Linked DNA regions of Homo sapiens: all the other regions are linked to region 2. Evidence: fine-mapped expression QTL. A gene starts in region 2. Each other region holds a variant in brackets. All regions are shown on one strand. Distances are between the middles of the regions. Region 1 overlaps FMO1-AS1 (FMO1 antisense RNA 1). Region 2 holds the start of FMO3 (flavin containing dimethylaniline monoxygenase 3). Region 3 overlaps FMO3 (flavin containing dimethylaniline monoxygenase 3). Region 4 overlaps FMO1-AS1 (FMO1 antisense RNA 1).

What was found. PIP is the estimated chance that this variant, and not a neighbour inherited with it, causes the effect.
Region 1: its variant is the best candidate, but not a certain one, in a credible set for the expression of FMO3 in nasal epithelium (TOPMed, PIP 0.52).
Region 3: its variant is the best candidate, but not a certain one, in a credible set for the expression of FMO3 in visceral fat (GTEx, PIP 0.62).
Region 4: its variant is the best candidate, but not a certain one, in a credible set for the expression of FMO3 in prefrontal cortex (BrainSeq, PIP 0.73).

What each region holds. Positions count from the first base shown.
Region 1 is chr1:171,120,088-171,125,241 of GRCh38, reverse strand. It overlaps FMO1-AS1 (FMO1 antisense RNA 1), which reads left to right. Exons shown (of 5, transcript XR_922278.4): 4 at 3,379-3,492; 5 at 4,686-4,870. Among named protein-coding and RNA genes, the nearest start is that of MIR1295A, 21 kb to the right of the region's middle. The variant T/C (reference allele first, on the strand shown) is at 2,507.
Region 2 is chr1:171,088,875-171,094,028 of GRCh38, reverse strand. It overlaps FMO3 (flavin containing dimethylaniline monoxygenase 3), which reads right to left and starts at 3,124. Exons shown (of 9, transcript NM_001002294.3): 1 at 3,048-3,124; 2 at 1,239-1,376. The coding sequence starts at 1,370.
Region 3 is chr1:171,111,922-171,117,075 of GRCh38, reverse strand. FMO3 (flavin containing dimethylaniline monoxygenase 3) reads right to left here. Exons shown (of 9, transcript NM_001002294.3): 7 at 2,714-3,069; 8 at 796-868. Among named protein-coding and RNA genes, the nearest start is that of MIR1295A, 13 kb to the right of the region's middle. The variant C/T (reference allele first, on the strand shown) is at 2,055.
Region 4 is chr1:171,138,923-171,144,076 of GRCh38, reverse strand. The region is part of intron 3 of FMO1-AS1 (FMO1 antisense RNA 1); the gene reads left to right. It also overlaps the pseudogene FMO6P. Among named protein-coding and RNA genes, the nearest start is that of MIR1295A, 40 kb to the right of the region's middle. The variant AAGG/G (reference allele first, on the strand shown) is at 2,162.

The DNA of each region.
Region 1 (5,154 bases), 31 kb before region 2:
TTTTTCTATGGTTATATATATATTTCATGTATAACCATAAATATATACATGAAGGTGGGTTTATTCAGGGAGAAAACTCTAAATAGTATAGTTTGTCTGGAACATAGTTACAAATAAGACTGGAAAAGTAGCTTTAGTCATATTGGGAGGCCCCTTGTATGAGATTTAAATGGGGAGAAAGAAGAACCAGTAAAGAATTGTATGCACGTGTAATGTGTTTTAGAGGCTCACTTCAGGAAGATGATTCTGGCAGTAGTATACAGGATAAACTATGACAGGGAAACTAAAGTCTAGCTGGCCAGTTAGAGGCCTATTCCAACAGACTAAGAAATTATGATAGCTGGGAGTGGGGTGGTATGTTCCATGTACTCGGGAGGCTCAGATGGGAGGACTGCTTGAGCCCAGGAGTTCCAGGCCAGCCTGGACAACATAACAAAAACCTGCCTCTAAAAAAACCGAAACAAAACATGAACAAAAAATTAAAAAACAAACCAGGCAGCAAAAGCAAAATAGACAAATAATACTATATCAAAATTAAAAAAAATAATGATAGCCAGATCTAATTTGCCAGAGTGGGAATTATAAGATGGAAAGAGGCAAAAGAGATAGAGAAAGTAGACTTTATAGAACCTATCCTTAGATTGCAAGTGGGGATTCAAGCCAGGGGAAGAGAGAATGAGGCTGAAATATTGAGTCTGGGTATGGGTAGCATAAAAATGAGAGAGAGAGAGAAGAAATGATGAAATGAATTGGTCGAAGGCACAGTGGGGTGGGAACAAGCATTGAAGATGCCAAAAAGGAGCATTCTGCTGATTTAGAATGAGATCTTACTGGGATAAAATAGAAGGAATTGCAGCTGGATTTCTGCACTAGAGATTAGGGAAATATAGAACTTCAGAATATTGATAAATTGACTAGAAATCCATCAGGTTTGGGGCTGATACACTGTAAGCAATATAGTTTCAGTAGCTTAAGAAAAAGTACACCTGGGACTCAAAGGGAGTTGGTAACCACTGGCCTCACATGTTTCCTGGGTTGCTTTGGTTTGCAACTAGAGGACTGGACTAGACAACTTTTAAGGCCATTTGTTTTCTATTATTCTATGTCATGATATGTTCTCTATTAATTTTAATTTTAATTTTTTTTTGAGACGGAGTCTTGCTCTGTCACCAGGCTGGAGTGCAGTGGCACGATCTCAGCTCACTGCAACCTCTGCCTCCCGTGTTCAAGCAATTCTCCTGCCTCAGCCAACTGAATAGCTGGGACTACAGGTGCCCGCCACCACATCTGGCTATTTTTTGTATTTTTAGTAGAGGCAAGGTTTCACCATGTTGGCCAGGATGGTCTTGATCTCTTGACCTCGTCATCCACCTGCCTCGGCCTCCCAAAGTGCTGGGATTATAGGCGTGAGCCACTGTGTTTGGCCCGTGTATTTTTAAATAGACTGTTTTCCCCTGATAGAATGTGACTTTCTTAAAAGTGGGATTATTTTAATATAATTTCCTGTTAAATCTCCAGGTCCTAGAATATACCCTAGTACATAACTAGTACAAAAACTGTTGGTAGAAAGCATGAATTCTGTTTGCCCTTTACTATTATCATTTTTATGGAAACTTTTGCCCTGGAAAACATGATAATTATTCTGGAGCTGAAAAACTGTGCTGTGATTTGGATATACTTTGCTTGGCCCTATCAAGTCTCAGGTTGACATTTGATCCCAATGTTGGAGGTGGGTCCTGGTGGGAGGTATTTGGATCTTGAGGGTGGACCTCTCATGAACTGCTTGGTGTCATCCTCACAGGAGTGAGTTCTCACTCTTAGTTCTGTGAGAATTGGTTGTTAAAAAGAGTCTGATGCCTCCTCCTCTCTCTACTGCTTCCTGCCTTACCATGTAATTTCTGCACACATCAGTTCCCCTTTCCCTTCCATCATGAGTGGAAGCAGCCTGAGGCCCTCATCAGAAGCAGATACTAGTGCAATGCTTTTGTACAGCCTGCAGAACCATGAGCCAAAGAAACCTTTTTTCTTTATAAATTATCCAGCCTCAGATATTCCTTTATAGCAGGACATATGGGCTGAGACACAGTGGCACTGGAAAGCTATTTGCAGTAGAGCAGCAGTCTAAAAATAAGCAGATCATGTGACCCCCACTATTATTTGTCTGTTTTATGTTCCACAGGAAGAAAACTGCTTGAAAACAGGCTGGGGGAACAACATAAAACACTGACAGGAGTTGTGTTATCTGACAGGATGCAAATTACACAGTGAAATTTAGATAACCATTTGCCATTATCTTGCTGGAAAATTTTCAAAAGTTTAACATTTATCTTTGAAGGCTCTGAGCTGAAATTCATAGCTCAGAGCCCCTCTTTAATTTACTCAAGCTTGGGAGAGGAGATTTAATAATTGCCAGTTGTGCCTTCACACAGAAGCACATTTTCACCTAAACACAGAGAAATTTCAGTCTGCTGAGTTTGCTGTTCCTGATCACTAAGCCAATCCAAAC[T/C]AAGGCGAAAGGTGAACAATTGTCAGCTGCAGGGCCTGGAATTAGTTTTCCTTTGGTAATATTGGTATCTGGTATAAACTCTGCACCTGTTCCCTCACCAATCCTTTGGTAAATCCTACTGGGCTGGCTCCTTCTGGTGGTCATGAGAAGTTGCAGATCTCCAACTACAGGGAGCATAATTGACCAATGGACCCAAACTACAGGGAGCATAATTGACCAATGGACCCAAGCTGCTCATTGAATGCTGTCTTTGAACTGAGGCTGTACTTGTTCAGGCTATTCCCAGCCAATGACTGAGTATGGCAGAGATACCTAGGCAGGCCTCTGCCTTATAGACACAGGGCTCTTCTGATGCCCAACTTTGTTCAGGCATTCCCCTGCAGCTTTGCCAAACCATTCCTAGACTGCTTGGCAGTCTGGAATGTTTTCACCCAACTCTCCTCCCCTCACTTCTTCGCTTGGGGTCATACTTGCATCCCTGTCTGACAGCTCTCCCTGTCTTTTCCAGCTCCTTTCCTATTATCTTTCACAGGTATTCTCCTGATCAATTCCTTGCATGTTTAGTCGTATGTTGTCATATGCTCCTTGGAGGACCTTTCTTAGAGAATATACCCATGCTCTATGACTTGACTTATTGGAGCCTTATTCTGATCTCCAGGCCACTTGATTGGGACTCTGGTAGTCTGTCTGGTTCTTAGGAGTATCCCTTACCTGTAACTAGGAGCTAAATCTTTTCTTCATGTCATTTACTTCTGGCTGGAGTCTTATTCCACCAATGTATGGGCTATCTAGAATGACATTGGTCTTCTGGAACCATTTGTAAGATTTTGACTCTTGTTACAATTGAGGAACTCATCTTGTCCTCATTGTAGCTATGACCGAGAAACCAAGGAACTCACTATCTTGTCCTCTTGGATGCCAGCTATAAATTGAATCAAGTTGGACACCGGAATTTTGACCACTTTCCACCTTTCTATCGTGGTCAGGTAAGTTGCATAAGCCTGTGATATGCATGATTTTGGACTTTGTTCCTTTTCACACTGGCCTACAGTTGAGGTACCAGATTCTCATACATCAATAATTAAAGTAGTAATCACTTATATGAGATGTTGAAATGTACTCCCTTCAAGAAAGGTGACATTTTCAGCTGTTTTCTTAATGGGAAAACATTATTAGTGGGAGCAAACTACAGATCCTTCAATGAGATTAGTGTGAAAGCAGAAGAAATGTGAAGGCAGTGGCTATTTGAGTGACATGAAAATATTCTAAGGGGCACAAAAGCAGAAAGGGAAAGCCGGTAACTTCACAGAAATCTCATTGCCTCCATAGTTTTTCCCAACATCAGGAAGTGCCTTTCTACAAACCTGTGGCATGAACTTAACAGAAAGAATTGAAATTTCTACTTGTTGGATAACTACACAGTTACACAACAAACAAGAGGCTATACATTTCCATGTGGAGACTAATATTACAACTTAATCCTTTTGGCAATCAGAGATGGGCAATTATGTTTCCAACTTAGAAAGCTTTCTATTTTCAGGGCTTTCTTCATACTTAAATCTGGTAACCAAGCCTATGAAAAGAAGTTTTAAATACAGCAGGTATAAATGTCTGTAGGAAAAGGCTTGAGCAGTGTAGGTACCATCTCAGAATTATAAGAGGGTGGACAGAACTTCTTTTGTTAAATACTATTATCTTAACCCAAGAGAACTGTCAATAGAGAGCTGAGTTTCTGGATTATGGGTGCTTCCCTCCTATGTCTTAAGATTAGCCAGCAGCATGCAAGGAATTGGAAGCATGTCCTCACATGACACAGCAAGAAGGGTGACAAGATCCTATTTGCGTTTGAAAAAGTTTACTCTTGCTGCTGCATACAAAATGGAATGTTAAGATGCAAGAATGGAATCAAGAAGGAGGCTCTTAGAATAATGGGTAAGAGTTAATGGTGGCTTTGACCTGAGTGGAGGCTGTGGAGGTAGACAGAAGTGAGAACATTTGCTGATGCTGTAGGTAGGGGAATGGTGAGGTGTTATGGATGGACTTGTGTCACTCTCAAATTTATATATTGAAGTTCTAACCCCTAGTACTTCAGAATGTTACTATATTTGAAGACAGCATTCTTAAAAAGGCTATTAAGTTAAAATGAGGTCATAGGGTTGTCCCTAATCCAATATAATAGGTTTCTTCATGAGAAGAGGAGATTCGGTCACAGGCATGTACAGAAGAAGACTGTGTGAAGACACAGAAGAAGTTATCTACAAACCAACGAGAGAGGCTTCAGAAGAAACCAACATTGTTGACACCCTGATCTTGGATTTCTAGACTCAGGAATTATGAGAAAATAAATTTTTATTGTTTAAGCCACCCAGTCTGTGGTACTTTCTTATGGCATCCCTGGCTAATGAATACAGGAGGCAGCTAAAGGAATTGAGGATTATGCCTAGTTTTGTGGCTTGAGAAATGGGGTATTTAGAGGTCTCATTACCAGGACGAGTAAGATTGAGGAAAGAACATGTTTGGAATCTATATGGGAATGTTGGTGGTGGGAAAAACTGAGAGGTAAATGTAGTAGTTTATGTGTGGGATGCCTATGCACATGCAAGAAAAGATATCAAGGAGGCAATGGTATGTGCAAATCTGGAAATTTT
Region 2 (5,154 bases):
GGCGAAACTCTGTCTCTACTAAAAATACAAAAATTAGCTGGGTGTGGGCACCTGTAACCCCAGCTACTCGGGAGGCTGAGGTAGGAGAATCGTTTGAACCCAGGAGGTGGAGGCTGCAGTGAACTGAGATGGCGCCACTGCCCTCCAGCCTGGGAGACAGAGTGAGACTCCCACTCAAAAAAAAAAAAAAAAAAAAAAAAAGATATTAGTGAGTATGTGGAGAAAAGGAAACACTGTTGGTTGGAATATAAACTATAGAAAACAGTATGGAGATTTCACAAAGAATTAAAAATAGAACTACCATTTGACCCAACAATGCCCCTAGTAGATATCTATCCAAAGGAAAAGAAGTCATTATATAAAAAAAATTCCTGCACCCATATGTTTATCGCAGCACCATTCACAATAGCAAAGAAATGGAATCAACCTTGTTGTCCAATAAGGATGATTGGATAAAGAAAATGTGGTATATACATACATATATGTATATATACACACAGACGCATATACATATATATGTATGTATATATGCACACACCATGGAATACTACCCAGCGAGAATACAGAATGAAATTATGTCTTCTGCAGCAACATGGATGGGACTGGAGGCCATTATCTTAAGTGAAATAACTCAGAAACAGAAAGTGAAATACCACATATTCTCTCACTTACGATTGGGAGCTACATAATGTATACACATTGACATAGAATGTGGGAATAATAGACATTGGAGACTTGGAAGGGTAGGAGAGTGGGAGGCGGTTGAGGTATGAGAAATTACTTAATGGGTGCAATGTACATTATTTGGGTCATGGCTACACAAAAGCCCAGACTTAACTGCTATACATTATATCCATGTAATAAAACTGCACTTGTACCCCCTAAATCTGTAAAAAAAAAAAAAGATGTGAAAAGTTATTGTGTTTTAAATGAGTAAATAATTATAACTACATAAACCTAACTAATATTTACCACTAATTTTATGTCCAAGTGGCTCTTATTAATGATCTATCAAGGGAGAACTGTAATGGAGAATTTCAAAGCCCATTGTCTAATTTACTTCTGACTTGCAAGGAGGTTACTTTCCAACCTGCTCTTGACACTGTACTTAGTGGATTCCAATTCTAACAGATATGATAACTGCCATGGTAGCAGGTTTGGAAACCTGTGTGCACACAGTGTGCTCTTATACACTTCCCAACCTATTTTCCTGTCTATTACAACAACATGCTACTCACTGAAAATTTCCACAGGCCCCCAATGTCATTGCTCTTCTCAAAGCAGGTGGGCTCCAGCCCCTCTTCCAGACAGCTCCTGATGGAGGCCAAGCCACTCACACCAGCTCCAATGATGGCCACTTTCTTCCCCATGGTAACCTGTGCAAAGGCCCAGAGAACATTTCCAGTAACAACATTGCTGAAAATGTATTTACTTATTTATCTATTTATTTTGATTTCGCTCTTTGGCTTAATAAAAACTTTACTTTTTAATAAACACTGGCTGAGTATGGTAGCTCACGCCTGTAATCCCAGCACTTTGGGAGGCTGAGGTGGGAGGATCACTTGAGCCCAGGAGTTTGAAAGCAGCCTGGACAACAGAGTGAGACCCTGTCTCCACAAAACAAAACAAAAAACAAACAAAATCAGCTGGGTGTGGTGGCACATGCCTGTACTCCCAGCTACTCAGGAGGCTGAGGCGGTAGGATCACTTGAGTTCAGGAGTTCCAGGCTGCAGTGAGCCGTGATTGTACCACTGCACTCCAGCCTGGGTGACAGAGTAAGACCTTGTCTCTAGAAAACAAATTCCTTTTAGTGATCTAACTACATTTTCATTTCTCTCTAATTTCTAAAGAGAAAGTTTTCTTCTGAAAAAAAAATAAGCACTTTGTTTTTAGTCATCAGCTCTCCAAAATTAAGAGACTGATGACCCAGCATACATATTTATCTTTTTTGCTTTTGGACTTTGTCATTTACTGTCTACCAAAAAGAGTAAGCAGAAGAAATAAAGATTCGCAACTAAAACACCTGTAGACACATCCACCCACCCACCCACATACATATGCCTGTATATGGGAATGAAGAAACACATATGTATATGTATACACACACACAGTCATACACACACACACACACACACGCAATCTGTATCTTCTTTTTACTTAGATACGGATAATGAGGAACAAGGTCTGAAGATGTCTGTATTTCAGTGTGCCAGGTAGTCACCCCTTCTCCCCATCAATAATGTACTTCACCTTCTCAATTAAAAAGACAAGTAAATGGTGCATACCTATAGTCCCAGCTACTCTGGGATTATATAGTCCTGTTGAGCTGGGGTATCGCTTGAGCCCAGGAGTTTGAGGCTGCAGTGAGCTATGGTTACAGCACTGCACTGTAGCCTAGGTGACAGAGTGAGACCTTCTCTCCGGGGGGTGTTGGGGAAAGAAGTCATGTTCTTACCTAAAAACAATTTTTTCCCACTACCTTCAGCGTCCATTCCCCTCTAAGAAAATTACGTTTCCTAACTTTTTTCTGTTCCTGACACTGTCTTTAGGCTCTACCACTACTTCTTTCACTACTTTTTTTTTTCTTTTTAGACAAAATCACATAGCTATGCAGGGAAATAGACTTGGATGATTAAACATCATGATCCGTGATTCCCAGAAACAAACAAACTGCCTGAATTATATCATTCTCATTCTAGCCATATTTGGTATAAAACTACAGCATGCTCCTTCTTCATTTACCCATCCCACCCTCAACCCTTTACTATATCACCTTTTATTCTTTTTCTTTTCTTTTTTTTTTTGAGACGGAGTTTCGCTTTTATCCAGGTTGGAGTACAATGGTGTGATCTCGGCTCACTGCAACCTCTGCCTCCCAGATTCAAGTGATTCTCCTGCCTCAGCCTCCCAAGTAGCTGGGATTACAGGCATGCACCACTACGCCTGGCTAATTTTTGTATCTTTGGTAGAGATTTGGTTTCACCATGTTGGTCAGGCTGGTCTCAAGCTCCTGACCTCAGGTGATCCACCCGCCTCAGCCTCCTACCTTTTTAATTTTCCTACCCGTTCTTTGTCTTCTTTTCTTCTGTGTGTCTACGTCCTGTCCAACCGTCTGGGCAGTTTGAAAGAGAAAATGTTCTAGTGAGCCTACATATTAGGAAGATTGTTGAAAAATGGGAGGAGCTGCTCTTAAAGAGATACTCATTTATTGGTCCTTGAATGGGTGAGCACACGCCAACCCTCTGTGATGGATGGGACTGTAGGCCAGTCTCCCATGGCCACCCAGTTTCTACTTTTCCTTTGATTATGGTAAACACAAGCTGCTGGTTATACTCTTGGACCCTTGGCCTGGGAGTCAAGTAGTTTCTCCCAGGTGACTTTGCAGTTCTGTACTCCATTTTATTATGTGTTATTTGAAAGTTTACCTTGTTTTCCTTATTCCTAGTTCTTTTGTGGGTAGCTCATAGTAGTCCTCCAAATACTGTAGAAACTTAGCTACTTAATTGAGATAGCCCAATAAGGAGGATGACTTTTCTCTGCTCTCTCTTTTCATGTCCTGTCTTGGAATTTTGGGGTCAAAGGCCTGTATTTCTCAAGCTTATATTTACTTGTTTCTGAGTACAGTGTGTGGTCACAGAAAAGATCAAAATTCCACAAATTGATCTATTAGTACCAGGAACCAGGTAAAATTAGTACCAGGTAAAATTATGTTGGCAGTTAGACAAAATAAACTGCACCTAACTCCCAGTCATGAAATATAGTAGAATTTCAAAAAAAGTTTTCCTATCAACTATATTTTGATGTCACTTAGAATTATAACATCTCACTCATTTTGTCTAGTTAACTCCTTCATTAAGCAAGTGATACTTAGTGTAAACTGGTATATGTCTAATTTTGAGGAATTACCCTTCATGCCTTTTGAAGACAGTAATCTTCATCTCTGAAGTGTGAGTATGAGAGATTCCAAATCACTTCTATAGCTCTGTGGCCTTGGGCAAATCACTTAACCTTTCCAATCGTTGATTTACTCATTAATAAAATAGGGATAACTACACTATTAATTCCTGTCTGGCTATTTTTTTTTTAACAAGGATTAGAGGATTAAAGGGTATGTACACATAAATACATGTATACATAGGTACATATAAAATGTGGCATGTAGTTAAAAATGAGCAAATGTGACTTGTAGATAAAAATTAAAAACAAGTCATAGGTTCATGAAATTTTCTAGGGCTGCAATTCAGACAACATGATTTTCTCTGCTCTCATTTTACATAGAACTTCTTTTCAGTTTTTAATGCTACATAAATAGAATTAAAATAATGCAAAGAAAAGATTGTGACTACTTCAGGAAGCAATACTACTCCTATAGCCTTATTCATTTAAAGATTGGCAGGACACACCCAATTCTACCTTGGCCTCCGATGTTTTATCTCTCTAGGAGGTGAAAAGGCCACCTATTCTTTGCTGTCCTTCACAAGAATGTATCTGAAGTCGACACATTTATTAGTCCTGTCTCTCTCTAGCCTATCCTTTGCTTGCCACAGCTTTCTGCAGAGCCCCTTTTTAAATCTTCAGAATCTCAAATGCCCAGGCTCTGGTTGGGGCAGTGGGCATTCTCTACTCTGTTGTCCCCTCCAAATCACAAAACTGCTAAGAAGAAACTTTCATCCCTGGATGGTTGCTAGATTATTGTTGCTGTTGGAGGATATGAGTGGAAGACTTATATTCTGTTCTCTTGCTCTATATTTTCTTTGTATTTTAAAGAAATTTTTGTTTTCTTCTAATTGATTTGCTGGAGGCAAGGCATATATCTCTTGTGACACCTGTTGTCATGTCTGATGATGCATAACAGTTGAAAGATTTCTATAAAATGAGAGTGGCTTTTGGAGACTCAGACTTGATCATCAAAGCTATGATGGAACATTCCAAAGATGTGGATTCTTTAGGGTCCATATTCTGAAGCTAATATCTCGTAAAGAATCGAGTGAACAACAATTAGTGCAGGCAGTGCTAAATGAAGCTGACAGTCTGTTGCATCTTCTGCTACAAGTTTAAAAAGTGTCTCAAACTTTTTTAGTTTCATAGCCAGAGGAATGCTGTGTTTATTTCCAAAGATATATTTTTTCATATGTTTTTAGCTATCTTTGTCA
Region 3 (5,154 bases), 23 kb before region 2:
CTGTGGATACCCAAACTCTGTGTAGAAACAGAACAGAGAAAATGGCTCGCAACTTTATATCAGTGAGAATTAACATCAATCTCTCTCTCTTTCTAAAAAAATTTCCCACACTACCCTGACATACAACATCAATTTCTTGTATAAGGAGAATGTCATTTGTTTATCCTACTTTGTGGTTTTTTTAAAGAACTTTCATATGGTTTCATTTGGAAATACCCCAACACTGCAATGCAGCTGAGAAAGACATTTTTTATCCTTATTTACAAATGGATAGATTGCCTCTTGCTCAAATGACCCTTCTATAATAGTTCATGGCCACTGAGCTAATTAGTGACAACTAGAAATGGAGCCCAGTTCTCCAGATTCATTCTCACTTTTCTGAGTCATTTTCATTAGAGGTATACCTTTGAAATATCCTCTACATCTTAGAGAATTTATGGGCTAGAGAATGGAAGTCCACATCCATGTGTTCCCAAACTCCTCTGATTTCAAATCCTTTCTGGGTCTCCTTTCTATGATATATATTACAGGAGGCATGGAGGGCTAAAACTGTCTATGTAATGTAGATTCTCAATCCTATTATTTACTCTGTGCCTTGTACTAAAAAGAACTTAATACAATGTCAGAAGCAACGTAGGTCTTCAATTAATATTTGTTGAATGGATGAATATAGCTTGTAGTTGTCATTCCAATGATGTCATTCAGGATAATTTAAGATTAAAACAGTTCCAAGCATTCATAAATTCTCACTTTTCTATGGAAATCCTACACTCCTATTACAATAGGTACTCTTACCATTTGCGCTTTTTCTCCATTTTCTCATTAATATCATTCATCATGTCTTCCATAGAAGGCAAAGTACAAGTTCCTGATAAAGAAGGAAAGACACGATGGTAATTAATGAGTCTGGCATAGGACCAGCCTGTAATTTTCCCTTTTTAATAATGAGTTATGAATTACATTAATTGGTGTTCATTTTCAGACAGACACCAAATTCAGTTCTAGTCTTCTCAGAACTCATATTTGTCATAATAATTAAAAAACATTACCTAAATAGCTTTGCTCTTAAACTGGTTACAAGATGTTTCAAAACAGTTTCATAGATATATTTTAATCTCAGTCATATTTTAAGAATGTTGTCTTTTAAATTATAGCCAAACAGAGGTGAATTGGCATCACTTTTCCAAGATTTATGAAGAAAAATCTTCATAGAAATTAATCCTGCTTTGCCAGAAAATGGAATTTCCAGAAGATAAGATATCGAATTTGGTGAAGGGCTAAGTTTTTCTATGGGAAGCCAGTAGTTCTTGAATATGACTGAGGATATGGACTGTCCACAAGTCACCAAGGACATAAGGGAGACCCAGGAGACTAGATCTGACTTGGGGCTGCCCCAGGATCCAGGTTTACATAAGTTTGCAGAGTTCTCTAAAACCCAGACCAAAACAGCCTTTTGTGTCCAGAAATACTTCAAATTTAGGATGATTTCTTTGGTAATCTTGGTATCAACTTGAAAGAGAATAAAACTCTTAGCCCAGATATGATTACTCAAGACCTACAATGGCTTGCTTAATTTCCCATTTCTACACTTCTTATAGGGAGGGTCACTTGAACAGCTTTTGTAGATATGGTATGGTTCCAGGCCTTGGAACTTGTCATGCTTTTCAGAGGAAGAGATTGAAAAGAAAGAGACTGTTTTTTAGCCTGCCGACTACTGCCATTGGGTTGCTTGTAACTAGCCCCTCTTGTCTTGGTACTCTGGTTTTCCAAATCTAGGTTGTTTGCCTTGTGTCTCATTTCCCTTAAGAGAGCCTGTGCCGTGTACATCAATTTTCCCCATAAATTGCCTTGTTTCCTTTCTTCAGAGCCCAAGTTACAACTCTTGTCCTCATAGAGAGTAAGGGTAGCACCCTTCCTTTAATGCCAGCCTCTCTGGGTCTGAACCCTAAGTGGAATCCTGAGTGAAATTTCATGCCATTACCTTCCTGGCTACCTGGTCGTGTGATCTGCATCTCCCCACAACTGTATTCCAGCCTGCTGCTGGGGGATGCTGC[C/T]TGCCTTTCTTGCCTGACCCCAATCAAGTTTGTTGTTTCCTTTGTAAAATATAAGAACTCAGTATTCTTATGTATTACAGACTGATCATCTACTACACTGAGCACTTTCTGCCTCTATTGATCCACTGTTTGTTCTTAGCACTTTCTGCCTCTGTTGATCCACTGTTTGTCCTTTTTTTGTCAGGGAAGAAAATAATAGTAGAAAAGCCATTGCCTTCCAGCAATCATATTTTCCATGACTGTGGATATTTGAAGTTGGCTGGATGTTGGCTCGTAAACATATTTTCTTATGAACTTTTCAAGCAATGTAATTCTACTGAGTTTTGCAATCATAATTTTATAAAGTTGTCATTCACTTAGTCTTAAGTGGATGTGAGCTTTGGTGGTCTCAAGTCTAATAAATGATCTTGGGTAATTATCAGCTGTAAGAAGTTGTAGTCACAAAATGCCTCCTCTAATAATATCTTGTAGTATTTCATACAATAATCCAAACTGGTATACTTTAAATTGCTAACAAAATATAGCACTAAAGAATATAGAATTATAAATTTTCAAAACTGAAGGGGACCTTGTAACTAGGATTATTGTTTTCACAAAGATCCAAAGTTATTGTCACTGGCATTCATCTTCGCAATCCATGAGCCTCTTTATTGACTTACCCTTTATTACTTGTGCTGCCCAGCGGGACTGGAGGTCAACTGTGGGAATGGCAGCCCCAAGGGACTGGACAAAGCCAATCACTGCTATGGTTGACTTCTCAAGTAGAGGAGGAAATACTCCTTTAAATAAAATGATCTCATTGTTTCTGCTTTTGATGATAGACTCATCAAGGAAGGGGTAGGCAAAACTATACCCTGTTGCAAAGATTACACAGTCAATGCCCTCAAATATGGTCCCATCCTCAAAAATGGCCGAGGTCTCTGTGAATTCCTTCACGTTAGGCTTTACGGACACAATGCCACACAGAATGCTTGCTGGGAGCTCATCGTTAAATACAGGCTCTTTCCTCAGGACTCTGTATGGAAAACAGAGACAATTATTGGAAGTGTAATATTTCCCTCTTGTTTTATTGGTCCATATATAAATTGATAAGGAAGGAAAAAATGACCCAAGATTTTTTTTTTCTGAGGCATAGAGTATCTCCAATATGGCTGAAGAACAAAATTGATGGGAGGCAACATTGGGAAGTAAGAGAAGTTGTTATTTGCTGGCCCCATCTCTATTTTCTGTGATCCTTCTCTTCCATGGAGCTCTTTCCAAATCCCGGAATAAAGGCTTATGCCCAGTTCCCTGTTAAAGCCTGTTTCAGGAAAAACTCTGAAGTGAGGGTACCTCGGTGTTTACATTTTTAAAGTTGCTACTTATTCAGTGGGAACCTTGATGAGATTATGTTTTTTAAATTCTTGGTGTCTCATATTTCTCATCTGGAATGTCAGTAATGTTTGTACTACCTCAGAAGTTCCCTAAATGATATAAAGAGTTTTGCACAGTCTCTAGCATATGCATGGAGCTCGAAAATGTTAACTGTTATTCTTAATTCAGTATACTCCAAGATGGTCATCATACTGTGGAGAAGACCAAATAGGAGGAGGAAAGTCAAAGGTGTGAGAGCTGCAGCTGGGCTCTTGAGGGATGAAGTATGAGCCCCATGCAGACAGAGGCACCAATCAGGTGAAGGAGGGAGCACCCAGGAATTTAAATAAGGCCAGAGGGAGGGTGCCAGTTTGAGGCTTTGGCAACTGCAAGTCTGGAAAGAGAGAGCTTTGGACTACTTTTTATTCAATAATATCTGTAGTGGGAGCAGAGAAATCTGAACCCAGGGATGAATGTGAATACAGTTGAAGGAAAGAGTGTTGTTCTTGTATGGCTGTGGGAGCTGTGAGAGAGTGCTACAGGCAGATTCCACTGGAGAACAAACTCCATCACCACGCTGAAACTGCTCTTGTCAAGGCCATCAGAATCAGGCTCCCAGATCCAGTGGTCCACCCTCACTTTCCCTTTTACTCAACTTAGCATTTAACATAATTGATGGTTTCCTCTTTCTTGAAACACTGTATTCATTTTGTTTCCAGGTCATCACTCTCTCTCAGTTCCTTTCCTACTTTGCTGGCTATTCTTTTTCTGTCTCCCACAGATGTCTTCTCCTCTTCCTGACTTCTGACAATGGCATACCTCAGGACTCAGTCCCCAGACCTTTAGTCTCCTCCATTTACATGCATTCTTCAAGAGATGTCATCTAGTTCCATTTCTTCAGGAAAAATTTTCTCATGACTCCAGAGTTTTAACTTCTGGTTTGAGCCTCCCTCCTGTCTTGTGTTTCCCACTGCTGGCTCAACATTCTTCTACCAGAATGTCTAATAGGCATTCCAACTTTAATATGTCTAAAACTGAACTTCTGTTCCTCCTGCAGTTTTTCACATTTTAGTAAACGTCAATGTCATCCTTTTTCAAATATCTTGAAGACATTCTTACTCCCTCCTTGCTCTCTCATCCTCTATCCAGTCCACAGAAAATCCTATTTGGGTCGACCTTCAAGCTATCCAGAAATCTGCCCAATTCTGACCACTCACTGCTAACAATTTTGGTCCAGACCAACATCCCCTCTGATTCAGGTTTTTGAGAGTAGCTTTTTAACTGGTCCTTTCACTTCCTTCCTTGCCCTACCCTTACATTGAATGATGACCACAGCAGCCGATCAATCTCTGCAATGCTAATTTAGGTCTTGTAATTCATTTGCTCAGATGCCTGCTGTAGTTTCCCATTGCTTTCAGAGTAAAAGCCAGAGTCCTTACAATGATCTACAAGGCCCACGCCATCCAACAATTTTTATGTCTCTGGTTTTATCTCCTGGCATTCTCCCCTCATTCTCTTTTCTCAAGGAAGAGAAGCCCCATTGTTGTTTGTTGATCATGCCAGCCCTGCCCGTAAATGCCCTGGCTGTGTCCTCAGTCTGGAATACCCTTCCCCTGAGACCCTCATGGCTCATTCCCTCAACTCCTTCAGAGGTTTTCTTAAAAGTCTCCTCCCTGAGACATACTCTGAGGACTCTATTGGAAATTGTCCTGACAGCACTTGCCATTACCTTTATCTGCTTTGTTTT
Region 4 (5,154 bases), 50 kb before region 2:
AATGAATGGAATAAAATGACTATTGGAAAATTTTATTTTAACTATACATTTGGGGCTACTCCAGGTAAAATAATGATGTAAATATCACCATGGTTCATAATTTTGCTGATTGTTTTTCCCACTATATGCAAGTGTTCTGCATTTAGCAGCAGTTAATTGAGGTTAAGAGTTCCAAACATACAGACAGAAATGCTCAATAAAGAGTCCCAAATAAATGTAAAACATTATTCTCGCAGAAACAATGCTGAAATCTCACCTTTTTAATAAAAAAACTAATGAACTGAGTGGGTAAAGATGGGGGCAATGACTATATTTCCCATTTAAGTTGTTAACCTTTTCATAATGTAATGGGAGAAACCCTACCAAATGCTCTGGTTTTTTGAACCACAACTCATTGGCATTGAACTGACAAAATTCCTAATATATACTAAAGCATTTTGGATTATTTCCAAAACATCAGAGCATGAGGGTGGAAAGTGGACAATGATGGGCTAGCTGCCTCCATTTTCTAAGGTAGTCTGAAAGCTCTCAGAGACTAGTGAACTAGTAAGTCTAGGAGAGAAAAAATCAATGCATGAATGCTTTATAATCAGAGCCAACATTTGATTACTGAGGTGCCCAAACATTTGGCTCTAATTTTTATAATAGTTTGCTGCCTCCTTTTTCTCTAACCCACACATATCTTAATTTCAACAGTACAAGTTATGAGACCCCTACCTCAAACTGTATGTATCTTAAAAGATCCTTCTTTTGAGCATATGTCTTTATATATTCCTGGAGCTTGCTGTGGTGTATATAGTTTGGGTAATCATCCGGATAAGGGAAGTCTGGAAAGCACATCATTTCTTTGGAAGAGTTTGTGAATACAGACTGGTAAATGCTGGCTCTGCCTTCTTCTGTGTGGTCCTAGGGAGAATAAGAAAGCTTAAAGAGAAAGCCAAGAATTGTGTTCCCTTCAGTGAACACAGTGGTTCAATTCTTGGTTGACTAAAACCCTTTTCATGTTTAAAAGCGTAAACAAAAATTAAAAGCTCTCAGTAAGATAAGGAATGGAAAGCCCTTCGCGTAGCACCTGGCACAGAACTGGAGCTCTTTCCATGTGAATCCTCTTACTGTAATTACCCTCAGTGTTAGCTCTGTCTTTATAGCCACTTAGTGGTTTTTGCTTTCTCCTGTGCCACCACTGGTTCTGATCTTATACTCAGGTTAAAAAAAAAACAAAAAACAAAACTGTCTAGAAGAGGCTCTGACTTCTAGCCTATTTATTTGCTTTTGGAGTTTAGCAAACTCTTCACTGGCAACAACCCAATATTGCAGTGGTTTCCCAGCTTTGGCGTAATGAGAATCGCCTGGAAGCTCCCTAGACCGTAGATTCTTGGGCCCTATTCTTAGAATTTCGGATTCAATCTGTCTGGGGTGGAGTCTGGGGTGGTTTGCATTTCTATCAAGTTCCTGGTGATGCTGATGTGGCTGGTTTAGGAACCACACTTTGAGAACCACTGCTCTGTTGTAAATGAATCCTATTCTTTGGCTCACCAGTTGCTGGACTTCACTCCTCACCAAAGAAACACAGGAAACCAGAGCCCTTAGAACATGTGTTAAATCTTGGCACTTCATTTTAAAGCCTCTGTGTAATTGAAAAGTGGCTTATTTTTTAGAAGCAGTCAAAAGCTAAATTGAAAATAAACATTTCCTCTCAGTTGTGAGGGTAGGGTAAAAGTGCACACAATGTGCTGCCTTGAAAATACATTTCAGAGCTGGCAGCTTCTGCTTCCCGAGGTCCGGAAGGACTCTTGTGCAATGGGGGGAAAGAGATGGAATGTCACGTTGCTGCTGGATTCAAGATGTGTCTCTCCCTCTCACACCAGATGACCTCTGGAAGAGGGAAACAAAAAGTGCTGGAAAGGGTTGAGAGGATTGTGTCCCCGTGGGGAAGTGGGGGGCTGCCCAAAGCCTCAGTATTTTTTCTCAAGTTGAAAACATAATCTTCCTCTATTCATGGTTGCTGTATTTCTCATAAGCGTGGAAGCACAGGAATTTAAACTTTTTAAAATTTTTGTGGAGGTCAGAAAAAGGGTGAAGGCTCATGTCCAGCAGTTTGGCAGGCTGAGTGCTTCCCTTTCACCCACAGCTAGCGCCTTCTACTGATGGTTGTGAGAAG[AAGG/G]AGAGGTGGGAAGGAGGTTTTTTCAGCTGCCTGTTGAAAGGAGGCAGGGCTGAACTGTGGGATGGAGCCTGGTTAAAGAATGTAAGACTCTGTTCTGGGAAACAGATGCTAAGGCCTTGGAATATTTCCATCTTGAATGAATCTCTGCTTTTTTGCCCCTTGACCTCAGCCAATTATAACACCAGGAGAGAAGAGTATGTACACTACAGCTCCTTGGAATTTTTCCGAAAAGACTGTTCTCCAAACAAACACAAAAAAGCAAATGTATTAGATAACAAGTCAGTTGCTCCAGGGAGCATGCATTTTTATTATTTCAATATGAGGTGTGGTTTGAGCCAGTAAGGAGGAAATTCAACTTTGACTCTGCCTCTAGCTGAGGGAGCTTTACCCTGGAACCAGAGATCTAAGCAGCTGTGGGCACCATCTGTCTTGGATGATAACCGTGTTCATCTCTCATCTTTCCCACGAGAACATAAGTAACTTGAGGGCAAAGTCAGAGGTTAATTTCAGAATGTTGTACATGCATCTAAGCAGTTTACCTTGATCTTCTTTCCTATTCCAGCTCTGCTTATGAGTCCCATATCTCCTTGTCTAAATATGCCCTTGAAATATGCTCAAAAGTTGCCTTCAACTTTGTCATGGCTTTCTTTACCTTCCCTCTCAGCTACTGCCAAATCATCTTTAGTTTTACTAAGGTCCCATTATCCTTATTGCCCTAATTATATAGTCACTTATAGTTATTCTGATACTTGTTTTCTCACGGCTTTTAAAGTGCTGGCTGGCCTCTTATCTGCAGCTTATGCTTAATATAGTACCCTACACATAAAGTACACAGTATGTATTCATTGAATGAACAAAGGAATAAATGAGTGGGAAAAAGTTCAAATAGTCCTGGCTTCAGCTTTTGCAATCAAAATGCTACTAACCTATTGGTAAGCATTTTTTTTTTTTTTAATGGAGTCTTTCTCTATTGCCCAGGCTGGAGTGCAGTGGCATAATCTGAGGTCACTGCAACCTCTGCCTCCTGGGTTCAAGAGATTCTCCTGCCTCAGCCTCCTGAGTAGCTGGGATTACAGGCACCCACCACCACACCTGGCTAATTTTTGTGTTTTTAGTAGAGATGGGGTTTTTCTGTGTTGGCCAGGCTGATCTTGAACTCCTGACCTCTCGTGATCCACCCGCTTTGGCCTCCCAAAGTGCTGGGATTATAGGCATGAGCCACCGCACCTGGCTGTTGAGCAACTTCTTATTACAGCAGTAATGAAATCTTTTGAGGACACGAGGCCCTATTTAGGAGTGGATGAAACTTAAAACACACATTCAGCCTGCTAGTATTTAAATCCCATTTGGTTTTCATTTCTCAGAAAAAGCAAATAGTGAAAAGTTCAGAATTACCACGTTTCTGTCTGCTAGAACACCTTCTAAAAAAGGCTTACAAGATAAAGTCTTATGTAACACATAAAAAAAATCCCTCTCTGATTATATATTGTGCCAAGCAACTTTTCTAAGAAAAGAAGGAAGGGCTGGGGTATGTGGAGGAGGCTAAAGTTTTGAGTATTTGTATGGGTCCATATCCTCACCAGGACTTTGAGTAGAATTTTGCTTATAGACATGACCTTATGGAAAAGAAGAATTTCCTCTTGTGGATAACTCAGAATCCAACTTTGAATCTTACTGATCTTTGTATCATATTATTGCTTCCTTAAGTAAACTTTCTGATCTGGCTATATTGGATAACTCATGGATCCCTCTCTGCACACACCATGTTCATTGCCTTTTCTGTGCCTTTCATGGATTGTTGGTCTCTCTTAACCTGGTGCTGGCACACTGCCAATGACTGCATAGGCCTATGGAGTGCCATTCGCAGACTTTATTGGGAAATGCACTCTCTAGGAGTTGTGTCACAGGTGGTCCTCTATTTTGCTTGTCTGGGGTTATCCTTCAAGGCTAAGTGTCATCCCTGTGGGAGGTTTTCTTTGACCTACTAAGATTTCCGTAGTCCACCCTCTTCTAAACGCTCGAGGCACTCGTCCATTGAATTGATGGTGACAAGGTCTATCTTGTTGTTGTAGTTATATAATCTCTTATTTTAAAAGTCTTAGGGCCAGATATATTTTGGAATGTGTACATTTTTGGATTTTGCTCCATAATACTCCTAGTGAGATCTGGGGCAGCAATCTGTCAAATGCAATAAAATTTCTGCCGTGCAACAGAAGGTGAGACTTAGCTTCATGTTGATCCAATTCACGGTATTTAACCTTACGATTTCAGAAGAGGTTCGGCTATCAAATGAGTTTTTGCCCATTTGCTATCAAAGGATTACGGAATTATATTATGGCTTGCTTAATCAAATGAAATGGAACCATTTACAAGGAGTGATTATATTCCATATTTGTCATCCCAGTACTTAGCACAAACTACCAGAATAGATGCTCAAGCATCATTTAATTGTTACTAGGGAGATGGTAGAAAGCCATTTTATGATTTACTCTAAGCTGTCCACATTTCCCTGAGCAAATGTAAATAGGGAAAATTAAATTCTTGAAAAATATTAACTCTTGATTACCCCCTACTGGGAAATAAAAATTAATGACCTTATATCTCATGGAGTGCTTTCAGGGTTACAAAACCACAAATTTTTTTAAAAAAAGCTTGGAGAAGAATAAAAATGTGTTCTAAGTTAGCACTGATATACTCTATTGGAGGAGGCTATTGGCGCAGGCAGAGCAGTAACTGAGACCAGGACAGGAAGTAGTTACAATATGAATGATGTGAATATGTTTTCAAGCCAAATATGTATCATCGACAACTGATTACAATGGCTGGGAAATCCAGGACAGAAGAACTAGAAGTTTCTCCAAACTTGGCTTTGAAATTAAAAAAAAAAATGTGTTTACAAGGACTATTTCCTAATTATATTATTTCTACAATGAGCCCAAATGGCAAAGACCATAATTTTTCCCTCTGGATTTGGAGCTGATAGGCTATTC